4 linked regions of the Homo sapiens genome follow. The protein of the gene in region 4 interacts with the protein of the main gene of each other region in a biochemical or structural test. Each region holds a gene or a part of one and is shown on either strand. Other genes may lie near its edges.

What was found. Proteins that work in one complex are often made in the same cells at the same time.
Region 1: the proteins of SIPA1L2 (region 4) and CACNA1D interact in a test that uses a peptide from one of them, tested with the Homo sapiens proteins (one large-scale study listed by IntAct).
Region 2: the proteins of SIPA1L2 (region 4) and SLC16A7 interact in a test that uses a peptide from one of them, tested with the Homo sapiens proteins (one large-scale study listed by IntAct).
Region 3: the proteins of SIPA1L2 (region 4) and ACVR2A interact in a test that uses a peptide from one of them, tested with the Homo sapiens proteins (one large-scale study listed by IntAct).

The regions. Positions count from the first base shown.
Region 1 is NC_000003.12:53,802,111-53,805,610, reverse strand, and holds part of CACNA1D (voltage-dependent L-type calcium channel subunit alpha-1D), read right to left. Parts: intron 3,465-3,500; coding exon 3,438-3,464; intron 2,189-3,437; coding exon 2,039-2,188; intron 629-2,038; coding exon 465-628; intron 1-464. UniProt on the Homo sapiens protein: Voltage-sensitive calcium channels (VSCC) mediate the entry of calcium ions into excitable cells and are also involved in a variety of calcium-dependent processes, including muscle contraction, hormone or neurotransmitter release, gene expression, cell motility, cell division and cell death.
Region 2 is NC_000012.12:59,784,529-59,788,028, reverse strand, and holds part of SLC16A7 (monocarboxylate transporter 2), read right to left. Parts: 3' UTR 1-3,500. UniProt on the Homo sapiens protein: Proton-coupled monocarboxylate symporter. Catalyzes the rapid transport across the plasma membrane of monocarboxylates such as L-lactate, pyruvate and ketone bodies, acetoacetate, beta-hydroxybutyrate and acetate.
Region 3 is NC_000002.12:147,848,029-147,851,528, forward strand, and holds part of ACVR2A (activin receptor type-2A isoform 1 precursor), read left to right. Parts: intron 1-3,500. UniProt on the Homo sapiens protein: On ligand binding, forms a receptor complex consisting of two type II and two type I transmembrane serine/threonine kinases.
Region 4 is NC_000001.11:232,397,465-232,400,299, reverse strand, and holds the end of SIPA1L2 (signal-induced proliferation-associated 1-like protein 2), read left to right. Parts: intron 1-1,026; coding exon 1,027-1,173; 3' UTR 1,174-2,335; downstream 2,336-2,835.

The DNA.
Region 1 (3,500 bases), on a different chromosome or scaffold from region 4:
GCATGGGGTTTTGCAAGACAGGCCTGCGGCACAGCCAGCTCTGCACTTGAGCCCACTCTTCCCCTTTGGGGGCTCAGTCACCCCATCACAGAGTGCAGCAGGGCTGACAACAGCAAAAGCATGTGTGTGGTTTGCCTCCCTCTCAGGATGGTCCCAGGTTCAAAGACAATGCTATGTATGCAAAACACCCCTTACCAGATGTGTGCGTGCAATCTTAGGGCCCCACAGCCTCTCTCTTCTCAAAGAGAGTCAAGCATAGCACTGAAGAGGCTAGAGCTCTATCACGTGAGATATGGATGAGAAAGGAAGGAAAGCAGACACACTCTCTGGCTGGGGGCTGGTCTTGAGGACTAAGGATCCTGACCTGGCAGCACACATCCATCACCGGCCCCCAGAGCGGGGGTTGGGGGAGAGGTACACTGTTCCCCGGGAGGTTCCACCCAAAACAAAAAATCTGGCCTCACATGCTGGGGTGGGAGGTAGTAGGCGTCTCCTTGGAGATCTCCGTGAATCATAGCAAACGGGCGAGTCATCGTCCTCCAAGAATCCTTGGGGATGATGGTAGCCTCGGGGCCTCTCAGAGTCGATGTTTCTGCCTGGGTATCTGCTGTAGTAGCCATAGTTTTGCCTGGAGGTCAGAGAGGAGGGCAGTAAGGTTCTAGGTAACAAGCTCTGTCACTCAACCCTGCCAGACTGACATCCATACTCCTCTCCCCGCCTCCTCCCTTGGACACAGTAGGATTGGCTGAGAACAAGGCTGGCCTCAGTTTCATGGAAGATTCCAGATGGAGACCAAGGGCCATTACAGGACTGGAGGCCTGTGCTGAGGGATGTGCTGGCAGTTTTGATCCCTCAGCTCCAGGGCAAATGTGGATCGCAGATGTCCTGTGAGCCAGGCTCTCACCCACTCATTTCCTCCGTGAGAGCCCCTCTCCTGAGTGCCTTCCCTCTGCCAGGTGCTGGGCACCAAGGACACCAAGATGCATGAAGCATGAGCCCCACCCTCAATGGGCTTAGAAAATGCCATGAGCACACAGAAATCAAATGCGAGCTGGAAAGGGCCAGTGCTGGAAGAGAGGAACTCATGCGGTTCGTGAGGTTTTCTTTTCTGGGGGTTGGGGGAGGGATTTCAATTCCAGTCATGGAAATAAAAAGCAAGGCCCTAGAGCAGGCCCTCGACAGGGGGGATGAGGCCAGCAGACGGAGTGAGGGCATCCAAGCAGGGGCCACAGTGTGAGCAAAAGCCCTAGAGAAGGGAACACGAGTTCATCTGGCTCAGAGTCAGTGGTTTCAGAAGTCAGGCATTTGAGAGAGGCACGGGGAAGGGCTGCGGGAGCAGAGGGTGAGGGTCAGGCTGTGGCTCAGATGCCAGAAGCCACCTCACTGCCATTCCACTTCCACTTCACTGGGCCCCTGGTCACAGTGAGGTGCGGTTCAGAGAAGAGGGTGGAGGGCGATTTTCATCCGCCTGTGCCGCCTGCTACGCCTCCTAAAGCAGAGTGCCCATTGTACTAACAAACATTCTTTCTGTAGGACAGAAGCAAGATGGACCCCTCTGCTGAGTGACCCCTCATTTCTTCATCTCCCCGAGAGACCCCTTGAAGTGGCAGGAGGCAGGTGCTGTGCATGAGGACCTGGCCCAGCTCCAGGCTGGCCAAGCCGCCGTCCACACAGAGCCCTGGGGCCGCCAGAGCTCCAAGTGTTAATTCAGCAAAAACTGATCTCTCCAAAGACGGGTGGTGGAAAGGCATTAACCCAGCCACGAAGCAGGCCCATCTCCCATTTCCCAAGCCTTCACTAAAAGGCCTCAGAGGCCCCTAGTGGAAATAAGGCAACAGGTCTGAAAGAATAGCCCTCACCCTGCCTCTCTGCGGCTCTCTTTCTCCAGCTCCACTCTCCCTCTGGCCTGGAGTTTCTGCTCCCATTTTGCTTTTTAGGGGAAGCCCAAGTGCAGCTGCCGGTGGCCCTGGCTTCCGGAGTGGGCCGAGCACCAGGGCAGGGCGGCCTCCCGCTCTCCACAGGAGCCAGAGCAGCTCACCTGCTCCAGGTGGGCGAGCTGTCATCCTCGTAGCATTCCTCACTACTGAAATACTCCTGCTCCCCCAAGCAGTGGGGGTCCCTGAAATAGCCATGTATCTCTGGGTCTTCCCGGCAAATAGTTGGGAGCTGTTCATCTCCTGAGTCGGACCTGCAGTTGGGAGAGAGGATCTGAGAACCTGGGCAGGCGGCAGATAATTCCTGCTGCAGCTGCACCTCTGCCTGTGGCCGGCAACCCTGCCCGGGTGCTCCTGGCTTCTCCCAGCGCGCACCTGCCTCAGGCAGCACTGGACTGTTCCGGCTTCTGGCAACAGCACCGTGTGTGTGTCTGTGTGTGTGGTGTGCCTGCGGGCCAGGATAGGGTCTCTCTCAGTGCCCTGCACAATGTTGGTGTCAAACCATTGTGTCCAGAGGCCTTGGAGCCAAAGGAATAGGTGCAATTTGGAGAACAGAACAAAAAAATGGACCTAGGGAAAAAGACCCTGGGTTCCCAGGGCATCTGCTCTGATCCCTCCCTCTCCTTCTAGTCCCCCAGCTCCAGCCCAGTGTGACTTCAGAACCTGGAACAAAGGAGCTTCCTGGCCACTGACCTCCTGCTGTATCAAATCAGGAAGGTCGAGTGAGTTCTGGATACAGTGCCACAGGGGAAACTGTCACAGAACATGTCCACCATGTTTCCAAAGGCTGCCCTGCCCCAGGAATGTGGTAAGTCTCCCTGAAACCCGGCTCATCCTGGCCTCAGTCCTCAGAGAAGGACGTGGTGATGTCAATCCTCTCTCCAAAGGAAGGATGGCACTTCCTCTGACTTCTCCACTTTCTTGCACCCAACTTGGGCCCACATGGCTCCCGACTTCACTTCATAACATGACACAGGAAGACCCATCCTCCCTTGGCCCCCAACAAAATGGGCATTCCGCCCACAATTCAACTCAGGTCAATACATGTGGAGTGGAATATACTACACATATCTTGAGGGCTACAGGGAAAATGACAAGATCCCATTCCTGACCTTCAGGAGGTTTGGGTCATGCTGCAAAGCACCCACAAGAAGCTTGACCCCAGAGAGCAGCCGGAGCTGCCAGCCACACAGGCTGAGGCCCCTGTAAATGCACAATGGATGCTCCTAGTGCCATCGCGAGGCCTGCAGGAGCCAGCCCATGGGGTGCACCTTGTGTGTGGACACCAGTCCTTGGATGGCAACAGAGTCGACAGAGATATGGATCTGAAGGTGCCTTTGCTTAGAAGCAACAACCTCTGACCTCTGAGTCCACAGCCATGAATTATGATAACCTTTAATAGGCTGGCTCAAAGAAGTGTTTCTCATTCTTCAGCACTCAGAGAGGCCAGCTGGTAACATACCATCACAGTATTTAACACAAAAACAGGTAATGAGCACATACCTAATGTAAGTTTCATAATAGCGGGTTCTATCCAGGAAAGGCATAACATGGGAAGGAGGGAGA
Region 2 (3,500 bases), on a different chromosome or scaffold from region 4:
GGAGAAGAACTTTTACATAAAAAGCTTCAAATTTAGTCAGTTGTAGCAAGCACTTGAAAAGACCCTGCTCTTTCATCTGCAATATCAGGAATTACTATATCTGACTCATATTTGATTAAGTTACAATCTCATTTTTGTTGTCACTACAAAGAAGGATCCTTATATTAGTAAATGCACTCACTGCAACTACTGAGGCCTGCCTCCTGTCAGAATGACAATGCAGTCTTAGCATACGGGTGTCGGTTTGGCTGAATCTAACCAAACACATCACGTACTACAGATGTTTTTAGGGCCCACCCAATTCATAAAAGATTTTACTGCGATACATGAGTTTACCCAAATTTTTATTAAAATGTGTTTTTAGGGTAAATATCTTGATGAACTAGGCAAACAAATACTGAATGCAGATTACTGTTTTTACAGTTTTACCGGGAAAACTCCTAATAGCAACCCCTCTTCCCCTTCACCACAGATCTTTAATTTAGGTGTGATTTTTGTTTGTTCTCTACATGGGAATAAAGGAGAAAGTTTAGAAAGACTGTATCTAGCTAGATAAGATGCAGAGGTAGATGGAATCTCTAACATAAAAGAAGCTCTAATTACACTGTTGCCAGACAGCTGTTATGGATTTTAGTATTGTTTATTAGGTGAAGAAAACATTCATAAAATAAGAAATTTTTGAGATAGAACTTACTCTAATAATTTCATTAACATATGTTCAGGTTCTTAGATCAAGAAATACTGTAGAGGTGTTCTCCTCAAGACTATGCTATGGCAATAATTTCTTGCATACAATTTAATAATTTAAACTTGAACTGTGTGTTCTGTGCTCTGGCGTTCTACTTCAGAAAAAAATGAACACTGCTTCTAAAATAAAAAGGAACATAAAATAAAAAAGGAATTAATGAGATATTGACATGTTTTCTATTAATACAATATTGATGTTTTAAATGATTTTGATATTGCTATAACAACATATATTGTGCAAAATAATTAATCTCACTAAATATTATTTCTGATTTGCCACGAATTATCTGCCGTGGCAATCAGGAAATAGTCTTCAAAGTAAGTTTGCAAACATGATTTTGCAAACCATGATTGGAAAAATATATTCATTTGGGCTATAAACTATCAAGTAGGGTTGTTATATATATTTCTAGGAAAATATTTTATTTACTCTACAAAGATCATCATTATGACCTTACGGCTTCTGTAGTGCAATGGAGAAAAAAGTGTGTTAGAAGTTAAAAGACCTGAATTCTATCTCCAACCCTGCATTTATTCAGAGTATTGGTATAGGTTTAGGCAAAATCCTTAATCCAGTCTAGTTTTATATGGTAAAAATGTGGATACCTATCAAAACTGAGGGTTGAGAGGATGAAATGAATTCATTAAACATATCTTCTGAGACATAAATATATCAAAACAAATCAAAATACAATTAGATCTAATGTTTAGAAATAAATATTTTAATTCATATTTGCTATTTCACTAAATCTAGAAATACTAATGCTTTAGTTAAATATAGAAAGTTGATGATAGAAAAATAAAATCCATCGTACCATTGAAAAGCTTGTCAGAAATATGTACTCTTGAGATTCGGAGGATGAGAAAAAAAATGTGTACTCTAACGAGGAAGCTATATAAACTGAGTCTAACTCAAAACATTTATTTTAGATGCATATAAGAATTAAAGTCTTAGTCAAAAGAATGTTTTAAAATTTCATCCTAAATTTATGTGAGATAAAATGCCATTCTTTTGTTTTTCTGAACAGAGGAGCTTTTATCAACTTATTCTATTTTATTTTTATTTTTATTATTTTATTTTATTTTATTTATTATTATTATACTTTAAGTTTTAGGGTACATGTGCACAATGTGCAGGTTAGTTACATATGTATACATGTGCCATGCTGGTGCGCTGCACCCACTAACTCGTCACCTAGCATTAGGTATATCTCCCAATGCTATCCCTCCCCCCTCCCCCGACCCCACCACAGTCCCCAGAGTGTGATGTTCCCCTTCCTGTGTCCATGTGTTCTCATTGTTCAGTTCCCACCTATGAGTGAGAATATGCGGTGTTTGGTTTTTTGTTCTTGCGATAGTTTACTGAGAATGATGATTTCTAATTTCATCCATGTCCCTACACGAACTTATTCTATTTTAATAGAATGTTCAGTATCAGTGTTTTCACACTGAGATTCTCTAGCTTATTTTGCCATATTTAAATTAAAAAGAAACAAAAAATCCTGTTTGATCATGTGAAAAATATTTACTGAAATGTGAATAAATTTATGATCATTAATTGCCTACTGAAATATTCCTGAATATTGCTCACCTTATTAACAAGTATATATGGAGACTGAAAAACATGTAGATCATGCAAACAAGTGTAACTAACTATACCAAAGAAACAAAAGTCCATACTAAATATGTCCATAATTAAATAAAAAATGCTAAACAAGTTTTACCTAGATATTATAAAAACATAGAAAGGAAAACATTTAGGAGATGATGAAGAAGCAGGAGATTGGGATGGGAGATGTAATTTGATCTAAATTCCCATATGCTTCTGTAAAATCAAAAATTCATTTTGCAATATTAATTTTGCTCTTAAGGTAGAGACTTTTAAAATGACCATTCTCAATACTACAGCAATTCTTCCCTGATTTGCACATAAATGAATTAAAGTGAAGAAAAAGCAGTAGAGGAGAGAAGACTAAAATAAACCAGATTGTAGCACCCTGTAAAGAGCTAAAATCTCCAGTGTACAAACAACTGATAGGAAAGAAGAGAAAATCAGAACTATAAAAAAGTGACATAAGCTCAGAAAATTACTCATTTTTAATTGTATCAACAAAGATAATTTGTAATTTTGATCATGCAAGCATTATAATTACTGATAATTGGGCCTTTCAGCTTTTAAGTGCCTTCTCAAACATGAGTTCTGCATATGGTTGTGCAGAAATCAAAATCTTAAAGAGAGATGAGTAAAGTCAAGTTTGTAATATTAATCTTATATTCTCAATATAGATGCTAATTAGTGCTCTGAATGGTTGTGGTTAGAAATCTTGTTGGTATGATGTATCAGTGATGTCACTGCATTGATGGAGACAGAATAATACATAATGGTGCAATGTGGTGATGGTAAGCTTTGTTACTCAATATTGTCAGGCACTTTAAGAAAATCAGAAACATTCAGGATAGTGCCAAAGAAGATCAGTTTTTCAAGACTCTAAAATCATATTCAATTATATGTGTATGTAATTATAAATATGTGCATCATGGCTGACTTTGAGAAGAATGCAGCGCCTTGCAAGTGCACTATTTGAATAGAGCTAAGGAGAACTATAGTCTAAGGACTGCAAAAGTCTAGATGGAGAAGACAAAAGCAATGACACTTGTTTTCTCTACAGAACAAATAGACAAAGAGGTGAATGACAACAAAGATGTTCAGAGAAACTTGAAAAATAAGCTACGGTGTAGGGTAAGTTGTATTA
Region 3 (3,500 bases), on a different chromosome or scaffold from region 4:
TGGAAATATGGTAATTATGTTTTCTTCAGTTCAGCTAGGCAGTACTGTGTATGTGTGAATGTATGTGTGGTTGGAGGGGGAGTTAGCATTACAGAGAATCTTTTGGGATTCTTTTGAACTTTGATTAACAAGTGATGGATGATAAATACTTTGTTTTCTAAAAGGCAGAATCTCTTATAAATGGTGTCTGTGGTCAAATTCAAATATAATACATTGAAACATGGAGACTAGAAACAAAATGAAACAAAATTCTCCCTCCATTCATTTTCTATTTTTTTTTCCTGTTTATGATCTAAGCCAACAGTTCTCAAGCTGGGGTGAGTCCCCCTCCCTACTTCCCCAGATCCCCATCCATGGGACATTTGGAGACATTTTTGGTTGTCACAACAGGGGACGGGGTGTGCTACTGGCATCTAGTTGGGTAGAGGGCAGGGATGCTTCTAATCGTCCTAAAATACATGGTACAGCCTTCCACAACAAAGAGTTAGCTGGCTCAATATGTCAGTAGTGTAGAGGTCAAAAAACCCTGTTCTAAGAAAACCAAATACCACATGTTCCTATAAGTAGGAGCAAAATGATGAGAAAACATGAAAACAAAGAACAGAACAGCAGACACTGGGGTCTACTCAAGGATGGAGGGTGGGAGGAGGTAGATGAGCAGAAAAGATAACTATTGGGTACTGGACTTAATACCTGGGTAATGAAGTAATCTGCACAGCAAACCCCATTATACGAGTTTACCCATGTAACAGACCTTCACATGTACCCCCAAACCTAAAATACAAATTAAAAAAAAAGGAAAAACTCAGTTCTAAACTCTTAAATTTTAAAAGCAGTAGTTTATTAGTAAAAGGGCTCTGCTCTCTTCCCCCTAAAGTTAGTAATCTAAATTTTACAAGTACATGGTATTGATGATCTCCAGGTAACGTTGTATTGAAAGATTTTTATCTTTTCATTATCTTTTAAATTAGAATATGATTAAATTAGAGAAACAGACTATAGATACGCACATTCTTTCATCCTTGATGAAATGCTTGAGAATTCACCAGTATAGTATAATATTTTATACTATAATAAAATATTCCAATGACTTATGGATAAACTCTCCTATCACCGATTTTGATAGAGTGCTCATGAAGACTGCATGTTCCTGGACATAATGAATGATTGGTTAAGGTATCAAGTTTAATTATATTTGCTTTAGATCCAGGATTTTCTTTGCCATGATATGATCTTTAAGGATATTTGCCTTTATTTTTACTGACATCATTGGGCTGCCTTATGGCGGTATTCGTGTGTGTGTGTAACATGTTGCCTGAAATATGTTCACTATTACATGTTCCCTGAATAGTTTCAAGGTAGAAATTCTGTTTTTTTAAAAAAGATATTTCTTTTGTCTAGCTAACTTTAATTTCAAGAAACTTTTAACCTAATCTCTTAATTACATAATTATCTTGAGAATCACTAGCTGGGTTTTGGTTACCGTTAGACTAATTCATGATACAGTAAGTAATATTTTATGATCTATTGCAGATCGTTTCCCTTTTTAAGGCTAAATCTTGACCATAATTAATAAAATGCTTACCTTGTTTTGAACTCTGGTTTTAAGGGAGTTAACCTAGCCAACCAAGATAAGAATTACAGTGAAACTCTTAGCAAATTAAGGAGCATTATACCATAGAGAGGAAAATTCTGAAGTCATTCCCACAAATGGTGTCCAAATGAGCCTCACAGTGTCTTTGTAACACACCTCTCCATACCCTTCTCTCTGATACTGACATTTTCGCCTTTTGGGTCCACCAGACTCACTGTTCTTAAGAGAAGCACAACTAAACCAAATGAGATTTTAGTAATCTCTAAATTGTTTCTTTAGATTCCAAGACTTTATTTTGTTGCATTTTGACTTTTTAAAGTGCTACTATGATTTTCTCATCTTTGATATTTCATGAGTCCAATGATTTAAATTTGTGTTTTCATGGTCTGTTAAGTTGCCAGTTGCCATGTTGTCTCAGATTATAGGTAAGGTTGGCAACATTTGATACTAGGGGTCACTGGTATGCCTTAGCTTTTTGCTCACTGCTCTGTAACTCATTGTTTTTTCCATTCCCTTTCATTATTGTTCCCTTTCCATTTTCCTCCCTTCTTTGTCTACTCCCTTTTCTTCCCCTGACCCTTCTGTACTTCCTTATACTGCTTGCTTGTGGAACCCAGTTGTGGCTTAGCATCATGGGTGACTCCAGAGGGCTTACCCGTAGTTTTAATGAAAACAGATTGAATTTAGAATGCTTGAGAATTGACCAGATAGTCTTTTCCACTGTTTTTTCATTTACTGGTTTCTGGACTACCTCGCACACCCTCTTGGGAATAGTGTTACTCTCTTAGAATCAAATGGCTTGAACTTTAGATTGCTCTTATTCTCTTTTTTAATATTCAGGTTTTCCTTAACTCTTTGCTGCTTCAGAAAAAGTTTCGCTCATCTTATTATTCATTTATCATCTCTGTTTAAGCCAAAATTTGACTAGAACCAAGAGTATATTTATTGCTGCTGATAGGACCACATTAGACTTCCTCTGTGGTAGATTTAATTCTGTTAGATTGTAAAATAGTCATGTCTAGACAGAACATTGATTTCAAATTGACTATTGAACATGAAAATTCCAGGAATAGTGTATAGAGGAAGGAGGAGGAGGAGGAGAAATCAAGAAGGTAAGAAAACTACTGTAGATAGCAAGTGACTTTCTGTCATTCTCCACCTAGATTTCTTGTTAGTCACTTTTGTATACCCAGTGCATCTAGAGGTCAGGCTTTGTTTTAATAAAGGGACTTAAAGGAAATATGTTTTTGTCTCTGAGATTGGATTTTTTGAACTGTTAGAGTGGTGGACCTAAGGGAAAGAATTGGAAACTTCATATGGATAGTGATCAAGAATGTGGTCGTAGAGGTTGGTAGACTTGAGCTGTGGTGTCAGTGCTGCCAGTATCTAGCTTATGTATCATTTTCTGTTACTTGATTATTGTAGCACTTTTCTAGCTAAGATTCACCAGTTCCCTATCACTACTTCCTTTTCTTTCTAGTCCATCTGCATAGCTGCTGGAGTGATCTTATTAAAAAATAAATCTGAATATGTTACCCTTGCTTAAAACCTTTCACTGACTGTGAGTCACCTTTAGCATAGAATCTAAAGTCTTAGAATGTCATAAAAGGTCCTTCATCGTTTGGTTCCTGCCTATTTTTTCTAACCTCTTGGTATTGGTTAAGAGTATAGACTCTGGATATAGACCTAATTGGTTTAAATCTTGGTTTCATAACTTAACCTTGGTCAAGTTACTTCACCTTTGTGTGCCTCAGTTTTCTCATCTACACAATGGGGGGATATTAATAGTGCCTACCTCAGAGAGTGGTTTGAATATTAAATGCTAGTTATTCTGCTGCAGCTTCTCCTCAGCCTGAGTACTATATTCCATCCATACAGACTTGACTTGCAGTTTCTTAAATGTGTA
Region 4 (2,835 bases):
AGCTGTGGGACTCAGACTGTCTTGGGACTGAGAGTCGTGGTGAGGAATGTCCGGGGAGAGTCAGTATCCAGGGTGGGCTGCAGCTGCTTCTTAGAGTGAAGTGAGTCTATCCAGGGTGGGCTGCAGTTGCTCCTTACAGCAAAGTGAGTGGTCAGCTCTGATTCAGGCCTCCTCTGAGGACCAGTGTCTTTTGGGCCAGTGACCAGGCAGGTGGTATTGAGGAGGGCCTTGGAAGGGCTCAGGAAACGAGGAAGCCTTGAGGGCAGGACCAGATATGCCAAGGGTGGGGGCGTCCACTCACCTCACTCAATGCTCCTGCACAGTGCTGGGGGTGGCATGTGGTGGCTGTAGTGGTTGAGTTAGATCCCGTTACAGAAATACCGATTATTACAATCTGACAGTGACCCCTCTATTCATTTAGGGCAAGGCATCCCTTTCAGCAGGGGGGGAACTGAAACTGCTGCTATACATTTTTTTATTGCTACATGTTGGAAACTCCAGATGTGATTCTTCTGAAAGTCTTGATTATTTTTACACAGTTTTTAATAGCAGATTTTAAGGGTCATTATGGAAATATAGTATAGCAGGAAAGCTTGATGGAATGAAAGACCTAAGTACATATTTTATTATAAACATATGTAACAGCTCTGCTAATTCCAATTTTCTACTTAGAAAGTTTTGTGCATTTGTCAAAAGGGTATTACCTTTAACCTCCCTGTAGTCTCCCTTTTTTGGATAGAGGGTAATATAAACTATGATGAACACCCTTCCTATATAAAGGCTATCTTAGCACCCCATGGGAGCAGAGTGGGATGAAAGAACAGGGTGTGTGGAGTGTTCATTCCCATCCCTTTGTCATCAGCAGGAATCAGGATCAGAAAAGTCCCCTCACTAAAGAAAGTCACCCCTTCTCCCCTCAAAAAGTACATAAGTAAAAATAAGAATCAAAGATTCTCGTAGCCCAGCTTAGGAGGAATGAATGTATCGATCAGTCTCCATGACTCAGTTTATTTCTGCTCTGACCAGGAAAAACAAGACAAGGCCGTTCTCCAAGCAGAAGTGCAGCACCTGAGACAGGACAACATGAGACTGCAGGAGGAGTCCCAGACCGCGACAGCTCAGCTGCGGAAATTCACAGAATGGTTTTTCACCACCATCGACAAAAAATCTTAGCCAATCCGCACCTCATCAAGGGACCACTGGGAAATGCCCCTTGTCCCTTTGAAGTCACAAACATGTGGTTTTTCTGTGTGCTTTCAACCAATCGTAGATGTTTTTGCTGTTCCATTCTGTGTAGCACCATTCACCACAGCAGGATAGGGAGCCTCGACTCTTTCTCGGTAACCACGGCAGAGAGCAGCGCCGATGTGAAGATGAATGAATGTAACTCCTGGTGTGAAGATGAATGTAAACCCTGGCGACAGTTGAGACCTTTTTCTTTTAGACTCTGCTAAAACAGTGCTCTGGCTTGGGCTTACCTCAAGAGGGAAGATAGTTGAGTTTTATTTCCTGTATATCAGGTGACCTGGTAGAGATGTAAAGCAATTTACCATAGTTTGGGCTTTAGTATTGTAAAATAAACATGAGAACAAATAATCAGACATATACTTTAATGTTAAAGGTGCTCTATTTTTTTGGATGTACAGTAGTTTTATTTCCACAGCCACATTACCATAGCAATAAGAAAGGAGGCATAGTACATAGTTGGAAAAGCTTTGTGGGGGGATTAAAAAAAAAAAAAAGCACTGTTGTGTTTAACACTAGTTCAGATGCAGTTACCTTAGAGACTTATTTATTTGCAGGAACAAATGGTGCCTGAATATTAACAGTGTTCTGATTAAAAACAAAAAAAAGATACATATGCCTTGTAAATGGCTCACCGAGTGGTCAGTAGTCACTTCAACTCTTAGTTCACTTTTGTATAGTTGCTCTGCTGGAAAGAAATGAGAGTGAATCTGCTTACTCACTAGAACTTCCCTGTGTGCTGTGAGCCAGCGGAACCACTTGTACAATGCCAGATTTGTTTATCTTTGTACAGAAGCTTTGATGAAGTGTCTTGTATTTAACACCCTTATTTAAGCTTATTTAACCTTAAATTGTTAATTTTATAAAATTTGGTTTGGCCTGCACTACGATGAGGGATGGAGGTAGCTGCAGGCTCAGAAGAGACTGAGCTTGCACAGATCAGACCGAGAAGCAGGGTGAGAGATTCTAACGACTGGATGCTGCTAGTAACACATTGTTTGTATTGCTTTACCATTTTTAACTGTTAGATTTGAGATGAACATACATTTTGCTTTTTTAATAAATGTTTAAAAGAAGTCCACATAAGAAATGGTGTTGTCAGGTGACTAGATTTTTTGTGATCTAACATGTCAACAGTCTGACTGTATGTGAATTTATTTCAGGTCATTTAGAACCTTGATTTGTATTAAATACTGTTCAGCTCCTTTCTCATAGAATCCCAGATCGATTTCAGGAAGGAGTACCTAGCAGTTTTTAATAGCTGCTGTGTGGCGGACACTATTCTCTGAACTTTTCATCCATCTCATTTAACCCCAATGGTATCTATCCTTCATAGGTAGGAGGTGGGGTTCCCATTTACAACCACATGAACTGTGGGTCAAGTGAAGTAATTTACGCAAGACTGCCTTTAAAAAAATAAAATAAAATAACACTTTGGTGTTGCCAGCACTTTGAGAGGCCAAGGCGGGTGGATCACCTGAGGTTAGGAGTTCAAGACCAGCCTGACCAACATGGAGAAACCCTGTCTCTACTAAAAGTACAAAATTAGCCGGGCATGGTGGCACATGCCTGTAATCCCAGCTACTCGGG